Homo sapiens: one gene and its partners. The protein of the gene in region 3 purifies or fractionates together with the protein of the main gene of each other region. This does not show direct contact. Each region holds a gene or a part of one and is shown on either strand. Other genes may lie near its edges.

Evidence for each region.
Region 1: the proteins of RELB (region 3) and SMARCC1 purify together in Homo sapiens (affinity purification with mass spectrometry; 2 studies listed by BioGRID and IntAct, with this or other methods). This does not show direct contact.
Region 2: the proteins of RELB (region 3) and USP11 purify together in Homo sapiens (affinity purification with mass spectrometry, with the first as the bait; 2 studies listed by BioGRID). This does not show direct contact.
Region 4: the proteins of RELB (region 3) and KPNA1 purify together in Homo sapiens (affinity purification with mass spectrometry; 2 studies listed by BioGRID and IntAct, with this or other methods). This does not show direct contact.
Region 5: the proteins of RELB (region 3) and NFKBIE purify together in Homo sapiens (affinity purification with mass spectrometry; 4 studies listed by BioGRID and IntAct, with this or other methods). This does not show direct contact.
Region 6: the proteins of RELB (region 3) and SMARCC2 purify together in Homo sapiens (affinity purification with mass spectrometry; 2 studies listed by BioGRID and IntAct, with this or other methods). This does not show direct contact.
Region 7: the proteins of RELB (region 3) and KPNA2 purify together in Homo sapiens (affinity purification with mass spectrometry; 2 studies listed by BioGRID and IntAct, with this or other methods). This does not show direct contact.

Annotation. Positions count from the first base shown.
Region 1 is NC_000003.12:47,584,769-47,587,331, reverse strand, and holds the end of SMARCC1 (SWI/SNF complex subunit SMARCC1), read left to right. Parts: 3' UTR 1-2,063; downstream 2,064-2,563. UniProt on the Homo sapiens protein: Involved in transcriptional activation and repression of select genes by chromatin remodeling (alteration of DNA-nucleosome topology).
Region 2 is NC_000023.11:47,245,465-47,249,616, reverse strand, and holds the end of USP11 (ubiquitin carboxyl-terminal hydrolase 11), read right to left. Parts: coding exon 4,135-4,152; intron 2,546-4,134; coding exon 2,396-2,545; intron 2,314-2,395; coding exon 2,198-2,313; intron 2,007-2,197; coding exon 1,918-2,006; intron 1,825-1,917; coding exon 1,687-1,824; 3' UTR 1,289-1,686; downstream 1-1,288.
Region 3 is NC_000019.10:45,010,863-45,015,604, reverse strand, and holds part of RELB (transcription factor RelB), read right to left. Parts: intron 3,670-4,742; coding exon 3,329-3,669; intron 1-3,328.
Region 4 is NC_000003.12:122,448,344-122,453,085, forward strand, and holds part of KPNA1 (importin subunit alpha-5), read right to left. Parts: intron 3,722-4,742; coding exon 3,633-3,721; intron 3,291-3,632; coding exon 3,191-3,290; intron 1,395-3,190; coding exon 1,231-1,394; intron 1-1,230. UniProt on the Homo sapiens protein: Functions in nuclear protein import as an adapter protein for nuclear receptor KPNB1. Binds specifically and directly to substrates containing either a simple or bipartite NLS motif.
Region 5 is NC_000006.12:44,256,867-44,260,551, forward strand, and holds the end of NFKBIE (NF-kappa-B inhibitor epsilon), read right to left. Parts: intron 3,674-3,685; coding exon 3,585-3,673; intron 3,417-3,584; coding exon 3,177-3,416; intron 2,419-3,176; coding exon 2,353-2,418; 3' UTR 1,300-2,352; downstream 1-1,299. Other genes in the region: SLC35B2 (adenosine 3'-phospho 5'-phosphosulfate transporter 1), read right to left, coding at 1-12, 534-544. UniProt on the Homo sapiens protein: Sequesters NF-kappa-B transcription factor complexes in the cytoplasm, thereby inhibiting their activity. Sequestered complexes include NFKB1-RELA (p50-p65) and NFKB1-REL (p50-c-Rel) complexes.
Region 6 is NC_000012.12:56,182,276-56,187,017, forward strand, and holds part of SMARCC2 (SWI/SNF complex subunit SMARCC2), read right to left. Parts: intron 3,966-4,742; coding exon 3,880-3,965; intron 2,837-3,879; coding exon 2,755-2,836; intron 2,662-2,754; coding exon 2,569-2,661; intron 1,970-2,568; coding exon 1,900-1,969; intron 1,656-1,899; coding exon 1,586-1,655; intron 1-1,585. UniProt on the Homo sapiens protein: Involved in transcriptional activation and repression of select genes by chromatin remodeling (alteration of DNA-nucleosome topology).
Region 7 is NC_000017.11:68,038,004-68,042,745, reverse strand, and holds part of KPNA2 (importin subunit alpha-1), read right to left. Parts: intron 2,069-4,742; coding exon 1,980-2,068; intron 662-1,979; coding exon 393-661; intron 1-392.

The DNA of each region.
Region 1 (2,563 bases), on a different chromosome or scaffold from region 3:
AGTCTAGGGTAATTACCCCCAATGAGTCTAGCCTACTATTCACTGCTTTGTGTGCATTTTTTTCTCCCTCTTTAAAAAACCCTTTAAAAGAAAAAAAAAAGTAGATAGTGCTAAATATTTTAGCTCATGAAACTTGGTTAGGATGGCTGGGGGTACAAGTCCCCAAACTACCTCTTGTTACAGTAGCCAGGGAGTGGAATTTCGTCAACCGGTACTTTTAAGGTTAGGATGGGACGGGAAAAGTGAAGCAGGATATTAGCTCCTTATACCTTCTCCCTTCCATTTCTGAGATCTCACATTCCATCTATCACAGGGTTTTCAAAGAGATGCTGAGGGTAACAAGGAACTCACTTGGCAGTCAGAGCATCATGCTTTGAGGTTTGGGGTGCTCAGGCTGGGAGGGTAGAATGCCATTCCAGAGGACAAGCCACAAAAATGCCTTAATTTGAGCTCGTATTTACCCCTGCTGATAAGTGACTTGAGAGTTCCCGGTTTTTTCCTCTTGTCCTTCCCTCCCTTCTGTCCTTCCATGTGTGGGGAAAGGGTGTTTTTGGTAGAGCTTGGTTTCCAAAGCGCCTGGCTTTCTCACTTCACATTCTCAAGTGGCAGTTTCATTATTTAGAATGCAAGGTGGACATCTTTTGGATATCTTTTTCTATATATTTTCTAAAGCTTTACATATGAGAGGGTATAGGGAGGTGTTTATAAAACACTTGAGAACTTTTTTCCTTAATATCAGAAAGCAAAAAAATAAAACCACAATTGAGATTTGCCTTTCAAACCCTCAGGTTTGCCTCTAACCAGGTGTCCCTGGTCACCATCAGAGTACTGGAATACGGGAACCGAGGAGACCTTGGTCCTTTTGTTTTTGTTCTGGACTCTTGGGAGTGGAAATGAGAATGAGTTTATTCCTACTGGAGCTTAGTTCCAATGCATTTGGCTCCAGAAAGACCCCAGTGCCTTTTGACAATGGCCAGGGTTTTACCTACTTCCTGCCAGTCTTTCCCAAAGGAAACTCATTCCAAATACTTCTTTTTTCCCCTGGAGTCCGAGAAGGAAAATGGAATTCTGGTTCATACTGTGGTCCCTTGTAACCTCAGGTCTTTAATGTGATCACTTTCAAATTTAAAAGATCCAGGTGGAAATATTTTTACTATAGTAATAATTCTACAAAATACCTGAATTCTTAACACTGTTATATTTCAGTATAAGTGGTGGCTTTTTCTTTTCATGTCTTTGATCTGGTTTTATTCCTGTAATTCAGCCACCTGATTTTGTGAGGGGGGGGAATAATATGTGGTTTTTGTACAAACATGTTTCTCAGTGTGTTGTTATTTTGGAAAAAATGAGGGGAGGGAGTTTGGCAAGAATGGAGAAAATGAATGAAGAAGGCCTAATCTCTCTCTTTTTCAGTGAATAAATGGAACACCATTTCTGGATTCTAGTCCCATTCTCTGCATTCATACACCAGTTTCTTCATATATCCTATGAAGAACCTAAACATTTGGCCCCACCTGGTCTTGGTTTGATCAGCAGTTAAAATTCTGTGACTCGGGCTTCCTTCCCGACTGCCCACCTTCATGATGTGTAAGGAACATACATTTTGAGGGTACCTCACCCACTGTTCATTTGCATGGTCAAAGTGAAAATGAGTGGAAGTTCTCCAAAAATGATGGCCAACATCCTGGCACCTCCAGGTGTGAGAAATAGCTTTGCTTGGTGAATGGGATAATGTTTGTCAGGATGCAGTTTAGACAGTCCCAAGTTGGAGGCAGGCCTTGAGGGCAGAAGATTCTGTGAACCTTGGGGGACAGCTTTTGGGTACTCACAGATATAAACCCTGTGCAGAAAAAAAGAAGTGATTGTTTTCAGGATGCTTATAAATCGAGTGAAGCAAAAGAAGAGGATTCTGTGTCTGCCATGAGATGAACGCCCTGCTCTTCACGAAGGTGTGCCTCTAATAAAGAGAGCCAAAGCCAGCTGGGTCTCACCAGATTCCTATACTTTCTCAAGGATGTTGGGGGAGGTTAATCCTTTATCGAAACTAAAGACTGGTTTATAAACTTGTGTGTGAATTATTTTTAGAATATTGGAGGACATGCAAGATCAACCAGTCTTACATAGGTTCCCTGGGTCCTTACCATGGAGTAATTCCCCCACATTCAATTAAGAATAGTTTAGGCTGGGTGCAGTGGCTCACGCCTGTAATCCCAGCACTTGCATTTTGGGAGGCCGAGGTGGGCTGATACCTGAGGTCAGGAGTTTAAGACCAGCCTGGCCAACATGGTGAAACCCTGTCTCTAGTAAAAACAAAAAATTAGCCAGGCATGGTGGCACGCACCTGTAATCCCAGCTGCTCAGGAGGCAGAAGTTGCAGTGAGCTGAGATCACGCCACTGCACTCCAGCCTGGGTGATAGCGAGACTCCATCTCAAAAAATTAAGTTTATTTTTTTAGAGGTGGGGTTTTGCTCTGTCACCCAGGCTAGAGTACAGTGGCACGATCATAACTCACTGCAGCCTCAACCTCCTGGACTCTAGTGATCTTCCCACCTTAGCCTCCCA
Region 2 (4,152 bases), on a different chromosome or scaffold from region 3:
CAAAATGGGGTGATTGTAGTGCTTCAGTCATATGGTCTTCACGAGCCTTCGATGACAGCTTCTGAGTTCCTGGATCCAGTCATACCTGAAACTAGTATTTCTGTTCTTACTTTTGCTAAGTCAGTTTGAGCTGGGCTCCTCACAGCAACTGCCTTGACTTCTGCCTGTGTCAGCAGAGTGACTGGGAGGTTTGCGGGTGGCGATGCTGGGGCTGAGTGACCCTCACAGTGGGTCTGCCCAGACCCAGTGCAAAGGCAGAAGGCTGGGGGGAGTGTTGAGGCCCTGGCCATGAGAATGGCCTCTCAGCTGCCACCGATCAGGATTCCCCTCACCCATCAGTGTGAAGGGTTGGATGGCTTATTTATGTCCAAATTCCTGCGGCAGGTGTTCAGTGTCGTCTGGGGTGAGGTTGGAGGGAACCTGCCTGGTGTGGGAGCTGGGGTCATGATGGGAGAGGGGGCTGACTACAGGGGCCACACACAGACAGCACATTTGTCCTGGCAGGTTGGCTGGTCTGCCAAATGCATGTACCATCTCCAAAGGAGGTCTCAGGGGGACAAAATCTTCTCAGAGGACACTACTGGGGGTCTGTGAGGTGGTCTGGGGAATAGCATCCTTTTTTTGAGATGGGGTCTTGCTCTGTGGCCCAGACTGGAGTGCAGTGGCACGATCATAGATCACTGCAACCTCAACATCCAGGGCCCAAGTGATCCTCCTGCCTTGGCCTCCCAAAGTGTTGAGATAACAGGTGGCACCTGGCCTGAGAGGAGTATTTTTATGTCCCCAAACCACAAATTTGCCCACATGGATGCATCCGTCCCACGTGCTCCATTTCCACATTGCCTGTAGGGCAGCTCATGTCTGCAGATTGAGTAGCAGTCCTGGGTCCAGACAAGCCAAGCACCCACTCCAGGGACCGACTCGGGTAGCACATGAGGTATACTGACCTCCTGACAAGCCCTGAGCAATTCTGTGACCTCTGTACCTCAGTATCCCCATCCGAAACTGGAGATGACAACTCTTGCATGAGATTGTTGTGAGGATTACGTATCAATATTTGGAAAATATTTTGGAAAAAACTGGGCATGCCATTGGTGCTTGGAATCGTGCCTGGCACACAGAGGGTGCTTTCAAAGCACTTAGAACAGCAGTACCCAGCCCACAGCTGGTGCTCACTAACCACTCAGAGCTGCACCCATCACACATCTGGCCTTTGATAAGAACACAGAACACAGGCACAAAACTGGTGCTTAGTTAAGTCCATGGAGGAAAAAACCACACTGCTGAGTGGGGAGCAGACTGGTGCTTTATATATACACACACACAGCAGAAGGTACAGGGCCTCAATAAGAAAATACACTCTGTGTTCAGGTGAACCCCCATCACCACCCACGCAGAACACTCTGGGCTGAGGAGAGGGAAGGGCACGACCATAAATAAAGACTAGAAGGGAGGGTCACTGCTGGAAGGGCAAACACAGGCGGGGCGCGCACTGCTAGGAGGAGACACGACCTGTTCTTTCCCGGGAGAGAGCGATGCAGCGGCACAGGAGAACAGTAGCCACGACTAAGCCTGCAATGCCTGGCGGGGGCACCTAACACGAATAAGAGAAGCGGGGCGGACACGAGAAGCGAGATTGCAGAGAGGGCTTTTTTTTTTTTTTTTCTGTGGCAGGACCCAGGGCTCTCAATTAACATCCATGAACTCAGAGCTGGGTGGGGAGCTGCAGGCAGGGGAGGCTGGGGCGCCAGATGAGCCGGCCGGGGACAGCAGGCGTCGCGCCACGTCCTGGCGTTGGTAGAAGAGGACATAGGCTGCCTTGGACTGTGGGGAGAGGACAGGAGTCAGTGTGGATTGTGGGGGTGGGGAGGTGGAATCAGAAAGGAAGAAGGGGAGGAGGTAGGATGGAAGTCACACCTCGATCTGATTCTCATTGACAGGGGAGACGCTGTTGTCATCAAAGTAGTGCCACTGGCCGCTGTCCTTGTTGCAGGCAAATGTTGTGTCTGAAAGGGAAGGAGAGTTATCCTCGCCTACCCTTCCTGCCTCTCAGAAGTGTCCAGATTCACTCTTGTCACTCCTCCCACCACGATAACCTCACCACTGGCTCACATCCCTAGTCACTCACTGGGAAGGTCCTGATCGCCCCCCTGCCCAGAACCCCCAGGGCAGGCCCCACCCACAGCCTGGCACATACAGTGTCCATCACGCATGCCCCCATAATGGTTGGAAACCGCGATGAGGTCATATTTGTACAGCTCCGGATTCGACTCATTCTGTGGCTGGATGACAAACTCAGAGAAGTCCAGGTCCCTGTGGGTGGGGAGAGGGTTAATACTGGTACACCCCCTCCTTTCCCTGCCTTCCCCCAGCCATCCTCTCCCTGGCCCCTGACCGGATAGGAAACTCCACGAGGGTGTCCAGCTTCTCTCGGGAGAACTTGGTGTAGGAAAAGCGTTTCAGGTGGATGATGAGAATCTCCGGCAGCATCCACAGGTCCAGCTTCTTGGTTGCCAGCTGGTGCTGCTTGCAGGAAGGGCAGTACCTACAGACAGAGCCCGAGTCAGCAAACGGACTTTTTCTTTTTTTTTTTTTTGAGACAGAGAATCGCTCTGTTGCCCAGGCTGGAGTACAGTGGCGCGATCTCGGATCACTGCAGCCTCCACCTCCTGGGTTCAAGCGATTCTCCTGCCTCAGCCTCCCGAGTAGCTGGAATTACAGGCATGCACCACCATGCCCTGCTAATTTGTGTATTTTTAATAGAGACAGGGTTTCACCATGTTGGCCAGGCTGGCCTTGAATTCCTGACCTCAGGTGATCCACCCGTGTCGGCCTCCCAAGGTACTCGGATGACAGGCATGAGCCACAATGCCCAGCCAAAACAGACTTTTTCTGAGCACCTACTGTGCGCCCTTTGTACTGCCTCTCACGTGCCATGTCTGGCTCACAGAAACACTGCTCTTACTATTAGCCCATCTAGTATTCTAGTTTGCTCTGTTCCTGTTAAAATCCTTTCACTCACTCGTCAAGTGCTTACTATCTTTTGTATATGTGCTCATACTATTTTTTGTATTTTTGTTTGATTTCTGTTCCATGAGATGCTAGTCTTATTTTAGAGCCCACCTCTATCCTTCTAGTTTCCTCTCTTCGTATTTTAGTCATTCATTCACTCCCCAGTATTTATTGATTGCTTGTTTAACCCTTTGGAACTATTTTGTATTTCTGTTCCATTTCTGCTCCACGGACATGCTGCTCTTATTTCTGAGACTAGGGAGTGTGGTTTTGGTTCTCTTTTTGTTTATTCTGCAAGTGTCTACTGAGCATCAACCGAACACTCAACACTATTATAAACAGGTAGAAGCAACACACAGTGAACTTAAGTCTTCACCCTCGAGGAGTTGACTCTAACGAAGATGACAAATAACACAAAAGTGGATACAGGACATCACATCAAGTGGCATCGCTGAGCTAGAAAGTAATGCTTGGCTAGGAAGAAAAGAGCAGAGAGGGGATGGAGAGGGATGGTGGGGAAGGGTGATTTTTAACAGGGTAGTCAGAGGAGGTCTCTCTGATGAGGTCACATTTGATCGGAGACCTGAGCATCGTAAGGAGTGAAGTCCTGTAGATCACTGGGAACAACATTCCTGGAGAAGGAACAGCACAGGCCAAGGCTCTGGGGTAGGAGTCTGCTCAGGAGATTGGTGGCCAGGTTGGCAAGAAGGGTTTGAGTGTGGAGGAGGGAGGAGGAAGGTATACTTAAAGAGCTAAATATAGGCCAGGTGTGGTGGCTCACGCCTGTAATCCCAGCACTTTGGAAGGCCAAGGCGGGTGGATCATCTTTAGTCAGGAGTTCGAGACCAGCCTGGCCAACGTGGCAAAACCTGTTTCTACTAAAAATATAAAAATTAGCCAGGCATGGTAGTGGGTGCCTATAATCCCAGCTACTCAGGAGACTTAGGCAGGAGAACAGCTTGATCCTGGGAGGCAGAGGTTGCACTGAGCCGAGATTGTACCACTGCACTTCAGCCTGGGTTGACAGAGCCAGACTCTGTCTCAAAAAAAAAAAAAAAAAGCTAAATATAGTAGTTCCATCCAATGAAACCCCCACACACAGGCCCCGCTCTGGCCCCTCACCAGGGGTTTTCCTTCTCC
Region 3 (4,742 bases):
TGCCACCACGCCTGGCTAATTTTTTTATTTTTATAGAGACGGGCATCTTGCCATGTCACCTGGGCTGGTCTTGAACTCCTGGCCTCAAGTGATCCTCCTGCCTTAGTCTCCCAAGGTGCTGGGATCACAGGCATGAGCCACCATGCCTGGCCCATTAGGCTTTAGAATAAGTCCGACCTGGCACCAAATCCAGGCTCTACCACTGGCCATCTACAAGATAAACCTCTCGGGTCTTACTGTCTTTATGTGTAAAATAGGTATGCAAAGTACCTGGTACATGGAAGCACTCAGTAAATGGCGGTAATTACAATAGTAAACTTGCTGTGTGCCCTGTGCAGGTAACTGCCCCTCTTTTAACCTCAGTTTCCTACTCTGAAGATGGGGATAAACATCCTGAATCCAAGCCAGGCATGCTGGCTCATGCCTGTAATCCCAGCACTTTGGGAGGCCGAGGCAGGTGGATTACCTGAGGGCAGGAGTTTGACATCAGCCTGGCCAATGTGGTGAAACCCTGTCTCTACTAAAAATACAAAAATTAGCTGGGCATGGTGGTGCACACCTGTAATCCCAGCTACTTGGGAGGCTAAGACAGGAGAATCGCTTGAACCCAGGAGGCGGAAGTTGCAGTGAGCTGAGATCACACCACTGCACTCCAGCCTGGGCAACAGAGCAAGACTCCGTCTCAAAAAAAAAAAAAAAAATCCTGAATCCAGATTTGGAGACAGGTCATTCCCTATGGTTAGGCATTTACCATTCTAAATCTTGGAAATCAAAACCAACTCTGGGGTCCGAGCACGGTGGCTCACACCTGTAATCCCAGCACTTTGGGAGGCTGAGGCAGACAGATCACTTGGGGTCAGAAGTTCAAGACCAGCCTGGCCAACATGGTGAAACCCCATCTCTACTAAAAGTACAAAATATTAGCCGGACATCATGGCGCGTGCCTGTAATCCCAGCTACTTGGGAGGCTGAGGCAGGAGAATCGCTTGAACCCAGGAGGTGGAGGTTGCTGTGAGCTGAGATTGCACCATTGCACTCCAGCCTGGGTGACAGAGCAAGATTCCATCAAAAAAAAAACCAAAAAACAAAAAAAAACTCTGAGCCAGAATAACTGCCTGGGAAGACTTAGAAATTAGGCCGGTGCGGTGGCTCACACATGTAATTCCAACACTTTGGGAGGCCAAAGTGGGAGGATTGCTTGAGGCCAGAAGTTCAAGACCAGCCTGGACAACATGGTGAGATGCCAACTCTTCAAAAAAATACAAAAATTAGCCAGGCACGGTGGCATGCACCTGTAGTCCCAGCAACTCAGGAGGCTGAGGTGGGAGGGTCTCTTGAGCCTGGGAGGTGGAGGCTGCAGTGAGCCGTGCTTGTGCCACTTTACTCCAGCCTCTGTGACAGAGAGAGACCCTGTCTCCAAAAAAAAAAAAAAAAAAGCCTTAGAAATTAGAAGTTGGGGAATACAGTTAAACATGGGATGATACATCTCAGTATATCATCCCATAGATAACTTACCAATTCATTACAAAGGGAAAGTTGTATCTTTATCATGGAGAGACCTGATAGTCACCACATTAGCTGGAGGATCCAACTCAGCATCACCAATATTGGGAATAACGACATCCCACGTCCCTTGATGTGAGACACTGAGAAGGCCACAGCATCACTGCTGGAGTGTTTCTGCCAAAAATGCATAATCTGACCTAATCTGGAAACAGCCAACAAACCCAGAATGTGGGATATTCTTTTTTTCTTTTTCTTTTTCTTTTTTTTAGAAGGAGTTTTGCTCTTGTCGCTCAGGCCGGAGAGCAATGGCACGATCTTGGCTCACCGCAGCCTCTGCCTCCCGGATTCAAGTGATTCTTCTGCCTCAGCCTCCCGAGTAGCTGGGATTACAGGCATGCACCACCACGCCGCACTAATTTTGTATTTTCAGTAGACATGGGGTTTCTCCATGTTGGTCAGGGTGGTCTCGAACTCCCGACCTCAGGTGATCCGCCTGCCTCGGCCTCCCAAAGTGCTAGGATTACAGGCATGAGCCACCACGACCAGCTTCAGAATGTGGGACATTCTACAAAACATCCGTCCTGTTCTGCACAAATGTTCAACTCACGAAACACAAAGACAGATTGAAGAACAGATCCAGATTAACAGACACCAAAGAGGCCAGGCACAGTGGCTCACACCTGCAATCCCAGCACTCTGGAAGGCCAAGGCATGCGGATCACTTGAGGTCAGGGGTTTGAGACCAGCCTGGCCAACATGGCAAAACCCCTTCTCTACTAAGAAATACAAAAATTAGCCAGGCGTGGTGGTGGACCTGTAATCCCAGCTACTCGGGAGGCTGAGGCAGGAGAATCGCTTGAACCCGGGAGGTGGAGGTTGCAGTGAGGCGAGATCACACCACTGCACTCCAGCCTGGGCAACAGACCAAGACTCCGTCTCAAAAAAATAAAACTTACCTGTACCTTATTAATACATTAATACCCTGCCAAAAGTAATCACCTTTGCTTTTTTTACTTCCAGTGTTATATATATTTGTTTGTTTTTTAATGGAGGCAGGGTATTGCTCTGTTGCTCAGGCTGGAGTGCAGTGGTGCGATCTTGGCTCACTGTAGCCTTGACCTCCTAGGCTCAAGCGATCCTCCCACCTCAGCCCTACCATGTAGCTAGGACTACAGCCATGTGCCACCACACCTGGCTAATTTTTGTATTTTTTGTAGAGATGGGGTTTTGCCGTCTTGCCCAGGCTCATCTAGAACTCCTGAGCTCGAGTGATCCGCTCGCCTCGACCTCCCAAAGTGCTAGAATTACAAGCCTGAGCCACCGCACCACGATCTGCCTTCTTTTTTTTTTTTCTTTTTTTTTGAGACAAGGTCTCACTCTGTTACCCAGACTGCTATGCAATGGTGCAATCTCAGCTCACAGCAGCCTGCACCTCCCTGGGCTCAGCTAATCCTCCCACCTCGGCCTCCTAAATAGCTGGGATTGTGCCACCACACTCGGCTAATTTGTGTACTTTTAGTACAGATGGGGTTTCACCATGTTGGCCAGGCTGGTCTCGAACTCCTGACATCAAGGGATCCGCCCGCCTCAGACTCCCAAAGTACTGGGATTACAGGCGCGAGTCACCGTGCCCAGCCAAATGTCCGACCCCTCCTTTTTTCTGAACCTTTTGGATTCCAGGCCAGGTGATAGTATAATTAATATCTGGTCCAACAATAACAACAACAGCCACCATCAAATAAACGTATAAATGCATGTGGATGGCTCCGGGGTGCAGGGGAAGCCCCAGTCCCACCCGCCCGGGGCCGCTCGCCGGGCCCACCTCGATGGCGGGCAGCGTCTTGCTGGCCTCGGTGCTGCTCTCCCCAAGGATGCTGCCGGCCGAGCGGCCCTCGCACTCGTAGCGGAAGCGCATGCCGCGCTGCTTGGGCTGCTCCGTGATGACCAGGTGCGGCTGCGGGCCCGGGCCCGGCGCTGGGGACACTAGTCGGCCCAGGGGGCAGCCCCAAGGCGGCGGCGTGGCTGGGGGCGCCACAGGGCCCAGGGTGACCGTGCTCAGGGACGCAGCCCCGCGAGACACCAGGCGTGGCAGCCCCTCGCCCGGGCCCGGCTGTCCCCCGTCCAGGCCGAAGCCGTTCTCCTTGATGTACTCGTCGATGATCTCTGCGGGAGAAGAAAAAACGGGTGGTGACGCCCATTCTTTAAAAAATTAAAAAAAAAAAAAAAGGCTTGATTACCCCCGAGACGTTTTCCATCCCATTTATCTCTCTCTCTCTCTCTCTCTCTCTCTCTCTCTCTCTCACACACACACACACACACACACACACACACACACACACACAGAGTCAGGGAGGCCAGGTGCGGTGGCTCACGCCTGTAATCCCAACACCTTGGGAGGCCAAGGTGGGTGAATCAATTGAGGTCAGGAGTTCGAGACCAGCCTGGCCAACATAGTGAAACCCCGTCTCTACAAAAATTAGCCCGAATGGTCTCCCACGTCTGTAATCCCAGCTACTCAGGAGGCTGAGGCAGGAGAACAGCTTGAACCCAGGAGGCGGACACTGCAGTAAGTCAAGATCGTGACACTGCACGCCAGCCTGGGCGACAGAGTGAGACTCCGTCTCTCAATAAATAATAGGCTGGGCGCGGTGGCTCATGCCTGTAATCCCAGCATTTCGGGAGGCCGAGGCGGGCGGATCATGAGGTCAGGAGATCGAGACCATCCTGGCTAACACAGTGAAACCCTGTCTCTACTAAAAATACAAAAAATTAGCCAGGCATGGTGGCACGTGCCTGTAGTCCCAGCAACTCAGGAGGCTGAGGCAGGAGAATCGCTTGAAACCGTCAGGCGGAGGTTGCAGTGAGCCGAGATTGCGTCACTGCACTCCATCCTGCGCAACAGAGCAAGACTCCATCTCAAAAAATAATAATAATAAATAAATAAATAGGCTGGGCATGGTGGCTCACGCCTGTAATCCCAGCACTTTGGGAGGCCGAGGCAGGCGGATCACCTGAGGTCAGGAGTTTGAGACCTGCCTGGCGAACATGGTGAAACCCCATCTCCACTAAAAATATAAAAATTGGGCATGGTGATGTGTGCCTGCAGTTCCAGCTACTCGGGAGGCAGAGGCAGGAGAATCACTTAAACCTGGGAGGTGGAGGTTGCAGTGAGCCAAGATCATGCCATTGCACTCCAGCCTGGGCAACAAGAGCGAAATTCCATCTCTAAATAAATA
Region 4 (4,742 bases), on a different chromosome or scaffold from region 3:
AAATGTCCATCAGTGATAGACTGGATTAAGAAAATGTGGTACATATACACCACGGAATACTATGCAGCCATAAAAAAGGATGAGTTCATATCCTTTGCAGGGACGTGGATGAAGCTGGAAACGATCATTCTGAGTAAACTATCACAAGGACAGAAAACCAAACACTGCATGTTCTCACTCACAGGTGGGAATTGAACAATGAGAACACTTGGACACAGGGCGGGGAACATCACACACTGGGGCCTGTCGTGGAGTTGGGGGCAGGGGGAGGGATAGCATTAAGAGAAATACCTAATGTAAATGACGAGTTAATTGGTGCAGCAAATCAACATGGCACATGTATACCTATGTAACAAACCTGCATGTTGTGTACATTTACCCTAGGACTTAAAGTATAATTTTTAAAAAAGAAAAAAAAAAAAGAAATGGCTAAAATATATAGTAGTCTAGTGACTAAAGAATACAAAGGATTACTTCCCAGATTTTGAATGATGTACTTCAGACTCCTGCAGCATCATACTGCCATTAATTCACATTAGCACTACATTACTGATCTGCATCCAGTCTGTAGCCTGCTATAATCCCAGAGTTTTCTATTTTGTATTAATACATTATAACTATCTAATATATTCCAAATGTCATGTTTGCGACAATGTCTCTTTGCATCTACTTTGTACTTTAAATCTCCCATACCTTGTAACTGTACCATTTCTCCATTATGTTATCACTTTCATTTTTTTCTTCTGTAGTATCTAAAAATTTGATTAATACAGTCTCAAATTATTTATGTCACGAGTAAATCTTCCACTCCATTATCAAAAGCATCACGGAGATGATAAAGCAAAATAAGATTGAATTTCTGATACTTGTCTAAAATAAGCTCTAAATGAGACAGACAGATAAGGAATGACTATTTTAGTGGCAGTATGCCTTCTGATGTCCGGTGGTTGATCTCAGGCCATCCAGTATGAGCCTGGAACTACACATATCAGAGTTTTCCCAATGTTTCTGCTAAAGGCCTGCTAACAGCAGAGGACTAAGAGGTTCTCTATAAGCCTCAATAAAACAAGACAAACAGATCTGACATCAAAATAAACAAGTAACAAAAACAGTAGCCCAAAGCACAATAAATCAATTATCATGTACAATCCATTAATATTTAAGTATTAGCAGCTAGAAAACTAGTACCAAGGGAGAGAAAGTGGACACACTTTCTAAAAGATATCTTACATCAGCAGTTCCACAAGTCTCCTACATACTCCCGCATCGATGACCGCTTGAATTTTATCATTGGGTCCATCTGATAGATATGAGAGGGCCCAGCAGGCATCAGCCAGTACATCAGTGTCACTGACAAACAGCAACCAGGAAAGCACATTCAGACATGGAGAAACCTGTAAAAGGAAAATGATGATTATGAAATTCAATAGACTAAAAGCCAGAAGTGAGGTGAGATACTCAAGAAGGCAACCAGGCATGTACTTGGTGACTTCTAGGGTGATTTACACTTCTAAAGATGAAGCAGCAAGTACCTAAGTGGCATTTCCATCTTTGGCAATGTTGTCAGTGATCTTGCACTAATCTGTAGTCAAAGCCCAAGGAAAATAATTTCAGAGAGCAAAGTTTTATATACATCAATTCTTGGAGTAAGACTCCCTATCAAAACACATTCTTTGTGGACTAAACAGGTAAAGGAACTTTCACAAATGTGAAAACTAGGAAATTCTGTATTTTAGATACTTTGTTAAAGACCAAAAATGCTAAGGTTTTGTTCAGTGAAAAATGATTCCAAATTAAAAACAACTACAAAAATACCCATTTATTTTAATATCCAGAATCTGCAAGAAATTCAAATCAGCAAGAAAAAAAAATCCCATCAAAAAGTGGGCTAAGGACATGAACAGACAATTCTCAAAAGAAGATATACAAATAGCCAACAAACATATTAAAAAATGCAGCTGGGCGTGGTGGCTCACGCCTGTAATCCCAGCACTTTGGGAGGCTGAGGTGGGTGGATCACCTGAGGTCTGGAGTTCAAGACCAACCTGGCCAACATGGTGAAACCCCGTCTCTACTAAAAATACAAAAATTAGCCGGGTGTGGTGGTATGCGCCTGTAATCCCAGCTACTCGGGAGGCTGAGGCAGGAGAATCACTTGAACCTAGGAGGCAGAGGTTGCAGTGTGCCGAGACCGCGCCACTGCACTTCAGCCTGGGCAACAAGAGCAAAACTCCGTCTCAAAAAACCAAAAAACAAAAAATAGATGTTGGCATGAATGTGGTGAAAAGGGAACACTTTTACACTGTTGCTGGGAATGTAAACCAGTATAACCACTATGGAAAACAGTGTGGAGATTCCTTAAAGAACTAAAAGTATATCTACCATTTGATGCACCAGTCCCATTCCTGGGTATCTACCCAGAGGAAAAGAGGTCATTATAAGAAAAAGATACTTGTATACGCAGGTTTATAGCAGCACAATTCACAATTGCAAACACATGGAACCAGCCCAAATGCCCATCAATCAACAAGTAGATAAAGTCACTCAGGACTGGAAAACCAAACATCAGATGTTCTCATTCATAAGTGGGAGCTAAGCTATGAGGACGCAAAAGCGTAAGAATGATACAATGTACTTTGGGGACTCAGGGAGAAAGGGTCGGAGGTGGGTGAGAGATAAAGGACTACACACTGGGTACAGCGTACACTGCTTGGGTGTTGGGTGCACCAAAATCTCAGAAATCACCACTAAACAAGTAACTCATGTACCTAAACACCACCTGTTCCCCAAAAACCTATTGGAAAAAAAAAAAGAATCTCATGGACTCCCAGAGAACTCACAGACCACACTTTGAGAACCACTGTTTTAAGAGAACTGAAAGGATAGTCTCCTAAACAGTATACTAATTGTATGAAGCCTAATTTCAATAAGCTTTACAAATTCTTCCTTCATGCTATGCTTTATTTGCAGTCCCATCGTAAATGTGCACCTTCAAGCTATGCTCTAAATTTGCTTTTTAAATAATAAAGAGAACCAACAAAAACAACAACAACCCTGTTTCTCCAAAAACAGATAAAATTCTAACATTTTAAATTTTAACAAAAATTATCTTCCTGTTCACCTTACCATTGGTTGCAATACTCTTTTAATTGTATTTTTTCTGCCAATGTCCCAAAAGCATAGTCCTTACCTTTGCAAATTCTGGAGGTGGACTTTTCCCTCTACAGAGATTAGACAAAGCCCATACTGCATTCCGGGTCATGGTCAGGCGGTTTTGCTTTGAAAATAACCTAAAAGCACGATGGTACAATGGTAAACTATGTAACAGACAGTGATTATCTGATGACATAAATACTAAATAATAATACTTTTGATAAAGAGATGTCTTCAGATAGCTTTTCTCCAGAACATTAAAACTTCATTAATTCTGATGCAAGTAATTCAGAATTCAGAATTTTGGCATGGAAAAAGATAGGGTGCTTGAGGAAATGATCTAAACAAGAAAATATCTGGAATTAAAAATAACACTAGAAAATCCAAAATGATTTCCAAACATGTAATGCTTTCTGAGGAATCTCTTACATTTTTATTCTCAAAAAGAAAAAAAAAGGAAGAAGGAAGAAGAAACTTACTGCAAAAGAGGGGGAAGGATATTGCAGTCTAAGACATAGTCCCTGCACATGGTACTATCTCCAGCAATGTTGCCAAGAGCCCAGACTGCCTGTGAAAGAATCATTCATTAATAAAGGTTACATAGTTTAATTCCCTCATAATTCTTTCAGATGCCAGTATATCACAATAACACGTTCATCAGGGAGTCAAATGAAACAGTTGTAGGATTGGGGGAGGAAGATAAATAATATCCTAAAGTGTACAACAAACAGAAGGTATTCGGTTTATTAAAGGAAAGAACTAATTCATTTTTGTTTGTTTTTGTTTTTTGATACAGAATCTCGCTCTGTCACCCAGTATGGAGTGCAACACAGTGAAACTCCATCTCTACTAAAAATACAAAATTAGCCGGGTGTGGTGGCAGGCGCCTGTAATCCCAGCTGCTTGAGAGGCTGAGGCATGAGAACTGCTTGAACCTGACAGGCCAAGGTTGCAGTGAGCCGAGATTGAGCCAATGCACTCCAGCCTGGGTGACAGGGACAGACGGAAGGAGGGAAGGAGGGAAGGAGGGAAGGAGGGAAGGAGGGAAGGAGGGAGGGAGGGAGGGAGGGAAGGAGGGAAGGAAGGAAGGAAGGAAGGAAGGAAGGAAGGAAGGGAGGGAGGGAAAGGAGGGAGGGAGGAGAGAGGGAGGGAGGGAGGGAGGGAGGAAGCAAGAGAAGGAGGGAAGGAGGGAGGGAGGGAGAGACGGAGAGACGGAGGGAAGGAGGGAAGGAGAGACGGAGGGAAGGAGAGACAGAGGGAAGGAGAGACGGAGAGAAGGAGAGATGGAGAGACGGAGAGAAAGAAAGACGGAAAGATGGAGAGACAGAAAGAGAGAAAGACAGAAAGAAAAAAAGAGACAGAAAGAGAGTATTTTCTTGCTTACATAAGAAAACAGTGAACAAAAAGAAACTTGCTTTCTGTACTTTTCTGCACAAAAGTGGCAAAGACTAGCCACTTTCTTTTTTTTTGAGATAGGTCTCACTCTGTTACCGAGGCTGGAGTGCGGTGGTGTGATATCGGCTCACTGCAGCCTCAGCCTCCTGGAGCTCAAGTGAACCCTCCCACCTCAGCCTCTCAAGCAGCTGGGA
Region 5 (3,685 bases), on a different chromosome or scaffold from region 3:
ACTGCCCACCATCTGTAAGGAAAGCGGACATAAGGATTAGGGCGCAGCTCCTCATCCCCTCCGCCCTCCAGAGGGGACCACACTGGAGTAGTGCCCGGAGTCTCCTCCCCGCCCCCTCCGCTGCAGCTCCGGCCCGGACAAAGAGCCTCTCTCTCTCTCTCTCTCTCGGGGAGGGGGTGCGCCGGCGCTGGCCAGGCAGAGCTTCCTCCCTCCCCGGGGGCGGATCCGCCCCTCTGGCCACACAGGTCTCCTCTGTTCCCTCCAACGCTAGCCGGCTGCTCAGGTCAGAGGAAGCGCCCCTTCCCCCACACTCCCCTCCACGATCCGGGACGTCAGGGTCCCCAGCCCCTCCGCCCGAAGCTCCCCAAGGAGCACAAAACCAAGCCGCAGCTCCCATCCCCGCTGGCTCCGGGCAGCGATATGCTGGCCGACGGCCGAGCAGCCGGGACCCCACCCGGCCCCCGTGCTGAGGCGCGGCAGTCACGTGGCCCGGGGGCTCGGTCACGTGAGCTCGCTGCTGCCCTAGCCCCCACCTGGCGTCCATGGTCCAGGCCGCGTGGGGTGGAGGGGGAACCGGGGAATGCGAGTCCCCGGGCCGCGCGCCCCCTGCGCTCCCGCCGCCGCCTCCAGGAGCGGCCAGCGAGCCAGCGGCCAGCGGAAGTGCCGCGCTCTTCCCGCCTCCCTCCCCGCGGCCCCCTCCGCCCCTGCCGCGACCACGCAGCGCCCCGGGCCGCCGCCGGACCACAGCGCCCCCGCGCGGCCCGGAGGCAGACGCGGCTTGGGTTCCGGGGACCTGGGCTGCCCCTGGGCGCGGGGAGCCCCAGCCCTGAAGAGGCGCCCGCCCGGCGTGTCCCCTGTGCTTCGTCATCGCCCTTCATAAGCGTCCCAGAGGTCATGGTGACCATTGCCATCTTGTGGACAGGACATTGAGGCTCTGCATCCCAAGCCGCTCCTCTGTGTTAGTTTCCCCGTTTTCTGACAGGATGAAGGTGTCTCCTTGCTTTGTTGGCTGGGTAGTAATTCTGTCCCACTTCCCATGATCTTCGAGGCTCTACATGGCCTCGCCCGCGTTCCTCGCCCACTCACTCGCCCGCTGTGAAGCCCCACTGGCTTGCTCTCAGTTCCTCTAATTCACAGGCTTTCCCCCTAATGCTCTGCCCCCATCCCTTTACTCATCCTTACATCCCAGTTGAGATGATACTCCTCAGGCGAGGGTTCCCGGACCACCCAAAGTATGACCCTCTACCGACTCCATCCTTTTCCTTCCCACTATTCTTTTCCCTTCATAGCACCCACTGCAACTTGGAAAGGCATCTTTATTTGGATGTTTATGCTTTTAACGGCTGTCTCTCTCACTGGATGAGACGCTCCAAGTGGTCAGAGACTGTGCTGGTTTATTGCCCCATGCTCTTCATGCCAGCATAGGGGTGACCTAGCAGGGCCCTCGAAGGTGAGGAACGGGGGGAAAAACGTGGAGTCAGCTCCCTCGTGCCCAGCCTCCCTGGGTTACCCTTATCCCCAGGCTCCTCCAGATGGCAACCCCCAGGGCAGTGGTGAGGGCTCCAGGGCGTGTGTCCTCTCATTCTTCCTCTTGTCCCTCCATCCCTCATCATTTCCACAGCAAGGACAAGGGTCTGTGCTGGACACAGAGAAAGGCCTGGAACTACTGGCCTCTGACCCCACCCAGCAAGGCCCTACCGTGCTCAGGGGACAATTTCCTTCTCTCTGCCTCTACCACAAAGTCACAGGGCAGGCCTGTCTAAAAAGCCCCAATGCACACAGACATGCATGCGCGCAAAACAGCTCTAGAAGGGAAAAACTTTTTTTAACGTCTCTGCCATTTTAGTGTCATGTTACTGAAACTTCCCTTCCCCAGTGGCTCAGTTCAGAGCCTTCTGTGTGAAGTCTTTAAACAACGGTGTTTCAGGGTCCTCAACAGCAATAAGATGGGACACCTCTCAGGGTTCTGCTTGCTCCTATTTCAGTCTCTTCTCACTCAGGAGAGTCCATGCTTCCTACTGGTTGGCAGTTTCAGGCTGACCCAACATGGGTAAAACAAGAGCACCTGCCATTTTCAAGAGAGGCAAACAGGCTTCACCCAGGATACCTGGGGCTTTGGGGGTCTTCCAAGAAGCCCTGTCCACCTGGAAAGCTCTTCCTTCCAGACTGGCTCTCTTCCACTTGCAGTCCCTCCTCCTCGGCTCAGGACTGTACTGGCTGGCCCCAGGCTCTGGCCACAGCAGTCCCTAGGGCACCAGAAGAGCACATAGCCTGGGCCCAAACTGCAGCAGTTATGGCTCCGGCTTCCAGATGGAGAGGTGGAGCCCTGAGGATCCCAGACCCTGCCTGGCTTCAGTCGGTACACAGCAGCAGTTTCCCTGAGATCTTCAGGTCATCAAAGGGCAAAAGGACAAGGGACTGAGAAGGAGAATGGAGAGAAGCAAGATCAGAGGACATGGGAAAAGGTGACTTGGGAAAGGGGACCCAGGGAAACCTGTTGGGCCACTCCCTCCCCACCAAATGACAGTTGAAGACCATCAGGGAACAAATCTTCACACGAATCCTCAAAATAGTGGCCCCTCTGGGCTTGGCAGAGCCCTGAGGACTTAGACAAGCCTTCCTTTTCTAAGATAATGCCAGAATATCCGAGTTAGGAGGGACCCTTAGAGGTGATCCAGCCCATGGACCTGGAGTTGTTTGTTGTTGTTGGGGGATGGGGTGGGGGGGCTGCTGGGTACTCGCAGAACATTTAGGTTTCTTTTTTACACTGAACATTTAAAAATAGGAAAGACTGTACAGAAAATCTGAGTTTCACCTCTCAAGAAAGTCCAAGACCAGGAAAAACTGGGCCTACACTCCTGCTTTGTAAGCCTTTGCTGAAGCTGAGTACAGAGACCCTCAGGGATGGCTCTCTGGGTTCTTATAGGCCTCACCACACCATGGTCTCATATCTGGCCAACTTCACTGATTCACTTTAACTGCAGGGTCCCTGTAAGAGTCCAAATTTGGCTCCTTGGACCAACTAAGGAAACAGGCTCAAGTTCCCACAGTTGGTCAGTGGCAGAGTCCTGGTTATACCCCAGGACTCCTGGCTCCCTGGCCCTTTCAGCTAATGACAGAACCTCTCTCTGCTATGGGTGTGCAAGGCCCTGGAGAGCAAAGCATATGCCACTTACTTCCTCAGTCAGGTCCTGGGGCGTCTCATCCTCCACATTCCGCAGCAGGGAGTCAGCACCCGCCTTGCACAGAGTGGATGAGATGCCCATGAGACCCCGGCCAGCTGCCAGGTGCAGGGGTGTGCACCCGTTCAGCATGCGGGCATCTACCTGGGCACCAGCCTGGAGCAGGAACTGTACCAGGCCCCGCTCTTGGGTTTCCACAGCCAGGTGCAGCGCTGTCTTACCACTGGTGCCCTCCTGGGGAGGAATAAGGATGTCAGCCAAGGCCCTCAGAGGCAGTGTGCTGGGCCTGGGCTCTGGATAAGGAAGTGAATGCCACCACTTCTGACTGCTGGGCAGGGGACTTGGGGATGTGTCAGGTGGGGGCAGGCCCTGGGCCGGGCAGTGCTTTGCTGGCTGTCTCACCTGCACATCAATGTCAGCTCCATTCCGAAGCAGCAATTCCATGAGTGGTTGGTTCTTCTGAAGGGTGGCAATGTGGAGACAAGCCAGACCTGGGATGGGGT
Region 6 (4,742 bases), on a different chromosome or scaffold from region 3:
CGTAACTACTCTTGATACTTGTATATCTGTTTTTCCTCCACAGTAATTTTTTTTTTTTTTTGATACAGAGTCTTGCTCTTGCTCTGTCACCCAGGTTGGAGTGCAGTGGCGCGATCTCGGCTCACTGCAACCTCCGCCTCCCGGGTTCAAGCGATTCTCCTGCCTCAGCCTCCCGAGTAGCTGGGATTACAGGTGCCTGCCACTGCGCCCGGCTAATTTTTATATTTTTAGTACAGACGGGGTTTCACCATCTTGGCCAGGCTGGTCTCAAGCTCCTGACCTCGTGATCCACCCACCTCGGCCTCTCAAAGTGCTGGGATTACAGGCATGAGACACCGCGTCCAGCTGGGGTTTTTGTTTTTGTTAAGACAGGGTCTCACTTTGCTGCCTAGGCTGGTCTTGAACTTCCAGCCTTTAGTGATCCTCCTGCCTTGGCTTCCCAAAGTGCTAGTATTATAGGAGTGAGCTACTGTGCCTGGTCCACAATTTTCTTTTTACATAATCATAACCATACTAGATGATGTTTTTACATAATCATAACCATACTAGATGATATTTTACATGCTTTTTTTTTTTGAGACAGGGTCTTGCTCTATTGCCCAGGTTGAAGTGCAGTGGTGCAATCATGGCACAATGCAGACTCAACCTCCTGGGCTCAAGCAATCCTCCCACCTCAGCCCCCCAAGTAGCTAGGACTACAGGTGCATGCCACCATGCCCAGCTAATTTCTGTATTTTTTTTTTTTGTAAAGACAGGGTTTCACCATGTTGCCTAGGCTGGTCTCAAACTCCTGGGCTCAAGCAATCTGCCCACCTCAGCCTCCCCAAGTGCTGGGATTATAGGCATTAGCCACTGCACCCAGCCTACGTGCTATTTTTTGTTTTGTTTTGTTTTGTTGAGACAGAGTCTCGCTCTGTCGCCCAGGCTAGAGTGCAGTGGTGTGATCTTGGCTCACTGCAACCTCTGCTGCCCCGGTTCAAGCGATTATCCTGCTTCTCAGCCTCCTAAGTAGCTAAAACTACAGGCGTGTGCCACCACGCCCTGCTAATTTTTTTTTTTTTTTTGTATTTTTAGTAGAGACGGGGTTTCAGCATGTTGGCCAGGCTGGTCTCGAACTCCTAACCTCAGGTGATCCGCCTGCCTTGGCCTCCCAAAGTGCTGGGACTACAGGCGTGAGCCACCATGCCAGGCCTACATGCTACTTTTTGCAATTATTAATAATATTCACTTATAAATTATCCATGTTATATCACTTTAAAGACTGCATAATAGTCCACTGAGTAGATATACAAATTTACTGAAACATTTTCCTACTGTTAGACATTTAGATTGTTTCTAACATTTACTTATCGAAAATGATGCTGGGATAATCAATTCACACATAAAGCCTCAATCCTTTTAGCCCAAGGCTTGTCCACTAAGTCCAAACCTCCCCCAAGACAGAGGTTCACTTACTAGGTGAGAGGAAAACAAATTAAGTGATCTAAAAATAACTCTGAAAGAGTGGCCTCTTGCTCTGCTAGATGTCCTAGGGCTTCTGGGTCTGGCTCTTATACTTAAACCTGCCCCAGGAACCCATCCTCACCTGTCAGGATAGTAGCCCCAGTGCAGAAGAACCTGCTTATCCCTCTTCATGACTGGTCGTACCCATTCCTCTGGGGATAGAGGAAGAGAAGGGAGAGATATAAGCTAAAGGGGGACACAAAAAAAATACTGTACAAAAGCCCTAACTAATGCACTCTCCTGTTGTAGCAGGGGACTTGGTAATAGGAACTTAAGGTGGTAAGAGGATTCAAGATTGAAAGAAGAGGAGGAGCCCAGGTACTGAATGGTGATCTTAGTCCTCTGCCTCCTAGTCCAAACCATCCACTCAAGTGGACAGGAAAACCCAGGTCTCACCTTCTTCTAGATTCCCCGGGACAGGATACACAACATGGGAGGCATTGTTCTTATCCTCAGTGACTGTTCCCTGGATGGTAAAAGGAGAAGCGGGTAAATTATGGTCCCCTCTGAATTACTCAAGGTTTAGCCACAGAGCTGCCTTCCTAACCATATTTTGCTTATAATAGTATTAAAGTTAGTTTGTATTCTCTAAGCACACACCAGCTAAGTGGCAGAGGGAAACAGCTGGGATTGTGCTAATAATGGAGAAAAGTCAAAGAATTAAAAATTGCCAAAAATAATCTTCTGAACAGATAATCTATACATGGGAAATTTAAAGTCCACTGTACATCCTTATCAATGACATCTATTCATTACTATAAAGTTCCAAAGAGCAGGAATTTCATTTATCTGAGATCACGCAATCTCTAGCTCAGTAGAAGTGGATACTATTTTTCCCCAGGCCAACATAGTCTCTAGAACAGTAATGCAAACCTGTCAGGACTGAAAAATGGGAGAAGCAGACAGAAAAAGACAGACTCAAGGCTTTAACTCAAGTCTTTTTCCAAGTAGACAGAGCCACCTCTGAAGCAGAAAACATGGTAATTCAGGGCTGCTGCTTGGTATAGAAAACACTGGGAAAACAGTCATGGAGTTTCTGAAACCTCTCCTCACCAGACCATTTACCTGGTGTCTCTTGATAATGTCCTTTAATTTCCCTAGTAGTTTGGGCTCAATTTCTGGGCACAGAAAAATGTTAGGTCGAGACAGGCAATTATTCTGTGGAGAGAAGAAATAGAATGAGATTATAGGAAAGGGGTGTTTTAGATTCTCACTGAGGGAAGGGAGATAAATAGGGTATATGCCTATTACCTGCACCAAGGACTTCTCAATGGTCATAAACATTTCCACATTGCGGTCCATGCGTGATGGATTCTGGAAATCGTAACGCCGCCTTGTGAAGAGGCAATAATCTAGTGAGTGGTATAGCTCAGGTCTGCAGATGAGGTGAGGGCACGTGACTTTTTTGTTTGTTTTTTGAGATGGAGTCTTGCTCTGTCACCTAGGCTGGAGTGCAGTGGCGCGATCCCGGCTCACTGCAACCTCTGCCTCCCAGGTTCAAGCAATTCTCCTGTCTCAGCCTCCCCAGTAGCTGGGACTATAGGCACACACCACCTCACGTGGCTAATTTTTGTATTTTTAGTAAGTAGAGACGAGGTTTCACCATATTGGTCAAACTGGTCTTGAACTCCTGACCTCAGGTGATCCACCTGCCTCGGCCTCCCAAAGTGCTGGGATTACAGGCATGAGCCACCACACCCGGCCTTTTTTTTTTTCTTGAGAGGGAGTCCCGCTCTGTTGCCCAGGCTGGAGTGCACTGGCGCGATCTTGGCCAGCTGCAACCTCTGCCTCCTATGTGCAAGCCATTCTCCTGCCTCAGCCTCCCAAGTAGCTGAGACTACAGGTGCCCGCCACCATGCCCGGCTAATTTTTGTATTTTAGTAGAGATGGGGTTTTGCCAAGTTGGCCAGGCTGGTCTCAAACTCCTGACCTCAAATGATCCACCCACCTCGGCCTCCCAAAGTGCTGGGATTACAGGTGTGAGCCACTGCGCCCAGCCATGACTTCTTAATATGGGAAATTAGGAGGCAAGCTTGCTCACAGCTATTGCCAAACATCACCTGGGATCTGAGGTTCACTGATCTCAACTCCATGAATCACTCTCTGTGCTTACTTCAAAGGGACAAAAAAAGGTTTGAGATGCCAACCTAAGAATCCCTTTTCCTCTACAAAACACACAGTGATACTCACACACTCACTCTTGGAGACTGTTTTGGCTCTGACTCCCAACCATCTTCCTGACGTAGTAAGTCAGGTCTACTGACCCAGCAAAATAAAGAGACTCACAAGAATTTCTACCCCAGAAAGATCCCAGGGAATCAAAAAGGGGGATTTCCTCTAAACTAAATATAAGAAGAATAGAGAGAATCATCTCACCATCCCTGGTCACTCTTGAATTTGTAGGCAGCTGCAAGAATGTGGCACAAGGAGCCTCCCGCTTTGAAATCTAGGAAACATTTGATCTACAAAATCAAGATACGGAAAAAGCATGTCAAGGTTCCACTGTAAATTCTCTCATCACTTAATAATCTAATAATCCTTTCACAAAATCCCATGCTGAATTGATCTCCCTTTTTTTTTTTTTTTTTTGAGATGGAGTTTCACTCTTGTTGCCCAGGCTGGAGTGCAATGGCGCGATCTTGGCTCACTGCAACCTCTGCCTCCCAGGTTCAAGCAATTCTCCTGTCTCAGCCTCCTGAGTAGCTGGCATTACAGGCATGAGCCACCACACCCGGCTAATTTTGTATTTTTAGTAGAGACGGGGTTTCTCCATGTTGGTCAGGCTGGTCTCCAACTCCAGACCTCAGGTGATCTGCCCGCCTCGGCCTCCCAAAGTGCTGAGATTACAGGCGTGAGCCACCACGCCCGGCCTCAAAGCTGAAATTCTTTAACCCTTGTGCCATTGCATCATGTGGCCTGGAAGAGGGGAGTGAAAGAAACCAACACACAGAAAGCACCACCTTGTGCTAACACTTTACTGGATTACCTCAGGTACCATTAAGGAAACTCTACAAGGTAGGTTTACTAATCCCATCTAGAGATGAAGGAACCAAGACTCATGAATGTTGCCCAAGATCACAGAGCCATCCAATGGCAAAGCCAGGATTTGAACACAAGCCTGCACAAATCCAAATCTCAAGTCCCCTTTTAACCATGCCATGAGAGACCTGTGGACTGATCCCAGGTACTCTGAAATAATTTGTTGCACAAAATATTACTAAGACAAAAAGAATGGTAAA
Region 7 (4,742 bases), on a different chromosome or scaffold from region 3:
CACGCCCGGCTAATTTTTTGTATTTTTAGTAGAGGTGGGGTTTCACTGTGTTAGCCAGGATGGTCTCAATCTCCTGACCTCATGATCCACCCGCCTCTGCCTCCCAAAGTGCTGGGATTACAGGCGTGAGCCACCATGCCCGGCCGAGGCAAGATTAATTTTATTACCTTGTCCAACACCATCAATTTTCAGTGACTGAATGCACCAGCAAAAACTCCCAAACTTACTTAGATGGCCCTCTGCTGCCTTTGTAAAGACGACACTTTCATTCCTAATAAGGGCTTGAAAGCAAGCTCAAAACTTGACAAAGTCACTATTACTTATAACAAGGCCTTTCTTCCAACTAATTACGATTAGATACATTCAGTCAAAAGAACTTCAAGTCCAAGTACCTGCAATGTTTCCTAGAGCCCAGACAGCTTGTTCACTGATGTGAGCATGGGGAGATGCCAACAGAGAAATGAATGCTGGGATGGCACCTCCATCTACCACAGCCTTGGTTTGTTCTGATGTCCCAGAAGCAATGTTAGTGAGTGCCCAAGCAGATTCAAACTGAATGGGACTACAATCAGTTCTGCCCAAGAAGGACACAAATTTCGGAATCAAACCAGCCCGGATTATGTTGTCTATGGGGGGCTGTTTTTCTCTGGAAAGTAGTTTCCTAAAGGGGAACAAAAAGAGAAATAAAAGTTGACAGTGATTAACAAAAGGAGTTTGTGTAAAAACCAATATAAAATGCAATTCAAGAGTTTAGAACTTCAGACAACCTTTTAAGTAAATCACTAAATGCTGAGACATTCTGGAACCTAAGAGAAGCTGAACAGATTACTTGTATGGTGCTATGTATGCGGTATAATTAACTACCATTTTTCCAGAAATTAATGTAGATTACCCTCCTTTCCATCCCTGCAGAAATCTACTCCAGATCTTGTCACTTTTTAAAAAAACTTTTCACATTCTGACAGGGTTATACTCTCACTGAATTTGTTCTGATAGTTGTGGTTAAGCACATTTTGTTTTTTTGAAATAGGATCTCACTCCACTCAGGCTAGAGTGCAGTGCCACGATCACAGCTCACTGCAGCCTCGACCTCCTGGGCTCAAGTGATCCTCCCACCTCAGCCTCCTTAGTAGCTGGGACGACAAGTGTGCACCGCCACACCCAAGTTATTTTATTTATTTATTTTTTGAGACAGAGTCTTGCTCTGTCGCCATGCTGGAATGCAGTGGCAAGATCTCAGCTCACTGCAACCTCCGCCTGCTGGGTTCAAGTGATTATTGTGCCTGAGCCTCCCAAACACGTGAGATTACAGGCATGTGCCACCACACCCAGCTAATAATTTCTTTTGTAGAAACTGGCTCTCACCATGTTGCCCAGGCTGGTCTCAAACTCCTGGGCTCAAGTAACCGACCCCTTGGCCTCCCAAAGTGCTGGGATTACAGGAATGAGCCACAGCACCCAGCCTAGAACTTTTTAATGATAATTTACCATTGAAATTTTTCTTCTGCACACTGTCAAGCTATAGAACTTATTAATCCTTTCTATTATATCATAAATATCCACGTATAGTGGGAGGTAAAGGTCAAATTATACTTATCTCCTAAATGGATCTATCATTCTAAATGCATGTCTCAATCCCACTTACTATTTATTTCTTCCTTCCCCTGCCAGTGACTTGAAACATTACTTTGGTAAAAACTTTATGGGCAGGTGCAATGGCACACACCTGTGATCCCAGCACTTCAGGAGGCTGAGGTCAGAGGACTGCTTGAACCCAGGCATTCCAGGCCAGCCTGGGCAAAATAGCAAGGCCTCCCCTCTCAAAAAAATTAATAAATAAAAAATACTATTTGGCTTATGGCTGGCTGGCCTAATCTTTCCTTGTACTATCTGTCTGTCCCTTCCTGCCCCACCCCCCAAAAAAAAATCTAAAAACACAAATTTCTTAGGCTACCCATGCTATCGCAGACAAGACTTACCTGGCAGCTTGAGTAGCTTGGAGCTGATTTTCCACATTGCTGCTATTTATGCCTTTGACAATGTCATCAACAGACCAATTTACAGTGCCCTAGAAGAAAAGTGAAAGTTTGCACATTATCATTAAGATTAAATACAAACAATAAAATCCACACTTACTTGTGAAGGCAAGTGTAAACATCGTTAGGCTTATAGCCAGCTACTAAATATTTAGCCCTACATTTAATTTTGCCTGTTAAATATTCATTATTTTATATGTAGAACAGTTTCCAAACTTGTTGTCATGGACTCACTGGAGTCTCAAGTTATGGAGTATCCAAGTGTTTTGTCGCTAAAAAAGGCAGCTTTGAACAATTTTAAAAAATGAACGAGAAGGACAGGCATGGTGGCTCACACCTGTAAGCCTAGCACTTTGGGAGGCTCAGGAGGGAGGATGGCTTGAGCTCAGGTGAGACCAGCCTGAGCAACACAGTGAGACCTCCCAACAAAAAAAAAAAAAAAAAAAAAATATCCAGGCATGGTGGTGTTTGCCTGTCGCCATACAAGACCTTGTCTCAAAAATCAAGAATCAGAGCAGACTGAAGATTATTTCTACGTTAGTCTCAATCACTTGCATTCAGATATACTTTGAGGGAGAAAGACATGAAGTCATAGGCAACGTTCTGAGGATTTTCTTTTCTTTTTTTTTTTGAGACGGAGTTTCACTCAATCCCCAGGCTGGAGTGCAGTGGCATGATCTTGGCTCACCACCACCTCCGCCTCCTGGGTTCAAGCGATTCTCCTGCCTCAGCCTCCCAAGTACCTGAGATTATAGGCATGCGCCACCATGCCTGGCTAATTTTTTTTTTTTGTATTTTTAGTAGAGACGGGGTTTCTCCATGTTGGTCAGGCTGGTCTCGAACTGCCAACCTCAGGTGATCCACCTGCCTCAGCCTCCCAAAGTGCTGGAATTACAGGCATGAGCTACCATGCCCGACTTTTTTTTTTGGAGACAGAGTTTTGCTCTTCTTGCCCAGGCTGGAGTGCAATGGCGTGATCTCGGCTCACCACCGCCTCCACCTCCCGGGTTCAAGCGATTCTCCTGCCACAGCCTCCTGAGTAGCTGGGATTACAGGCATGCGCCACGATGCCCAGCTAATTTTGTATTTTTAGTAGAGATGGAGTTTCTCCATGTTGGTCAGGCTGGTCTCAAACTCCCGACCTCAGGTGATCCACCTGCCTCGGCCTCCCAAAGTAATGGGATTACAGGTGTGAGCCACCACACCCGGCCGAGGATTTTCATATCTAATTTTATAATCTACATATTTCCACGGTTAAGTGTTGCTGCAAATATAAATGGTTTATGTTTGGCTGGGCGAAGTGGCTCGCGCCTGTAATCCCAGCACTTTGGGAGGCCGAGGCGGGTGGATCACCTGAGGTCAGGAGTTCGAGACCAGACTGGGAAACACGGTGAATCCCCGTGTCTACTAAAAATGCAAAAATTAGCTAGACATCGTGGTGATCCCCTGTGATCCCAGCTACTTGGGAGGCTGAGGCAGGAGAGTCACTTGAACCCAGGAGACGGAGGCTGCAGTCAGCCAAGATCGTACCACTGCACTCCAGCCTGGGCAACAAACCAAGGTTTTGTCTCAAAACAAAAAAAAAAGGAAGCATATTGTGAGAAAAACATGTAGGAAAGGGCCCAGATGAAAGATAAATTTGAAAATCTAAGTTAAGTCTACTTTATGGAAGGCCTTCATAGAGTAGGGATTTCTTAGAGACAGGGTCTCACTGTCACCCAGCATGGGGTGCAGTGGTGCAATCACAGCTCACTGCAGCCTCAAAATCCCGGGCTCAAGTGATTCTTCTGTCTCAGCCCCCTGAATACCTAGGACTAAAGGCCGGCGCCACCACACCCAGCTAACTTTACTTTTTATAGAGACGAGGTCTTCCTATGTTGCCTAGGCTGGGCTCAAACTCCTGGCCTCCAGTGATCCTCCCATTTCAGCTTCCCAAAGTGTTGGAATTACAGGCATGAACCACCATGCCCAGCTGGAGTATGGATTTATTTTATTTTTATTTTTTTCCTTGAGACGGAGTTTCACTCTTGTTGCACAGGCTGGAGTGCAATGGCATGATCTTGGCTCACTGCAACCTCCACCTCCCAGGTTCAAGCAATTTGGAGTATGGATTTTAAGGAGCGAAAACACAGGTCTAAAGCAGTACTTCAGGAAAAATTTCAGGAAAATAGTATATGGCATAAAGAAGGATATGATAAATTAGGAGGCTACTGTAAATATTTCAGAAGGAAAGTCCTGAACAAAGCTGGTGACAAATACAAAAACATAGAGAATACCAAAAAAGGCAGAAATAAACCAAAAACGGGAAGGGCCTGGTGGCTCACGCTTGTAATCCCAGCACTTCTGGAGACCAAGGCAGGCATATCACGAGGTCATGAGTTCAAGACTAGCCTGGCCAACATGGTGAAACCCCGCCTCTACTAAAAATACAAAAACAGGCCGGGCAGTGGCTCACGCCTGTAATCCCAGCACTTTGGGAGGCTGAGGCGGGTGGATCACGAGGTCAGGAGATCGAGACCATCCTGGCTAACATGTTGAAACACCGTCTCTACTAAAAATACAAAAAATTAGCCAGACAGGGTGCGGGCGCCTGTAGTCCCAGCTACTTAGGAGGCTGAGGCAGGAGAATGGCGTGAACCCGGGAGATGGAGCTTGCAGTGAGCGGAGATCGCACCACTGCACGCTAGCCTGGGCGACAGAGCAAAA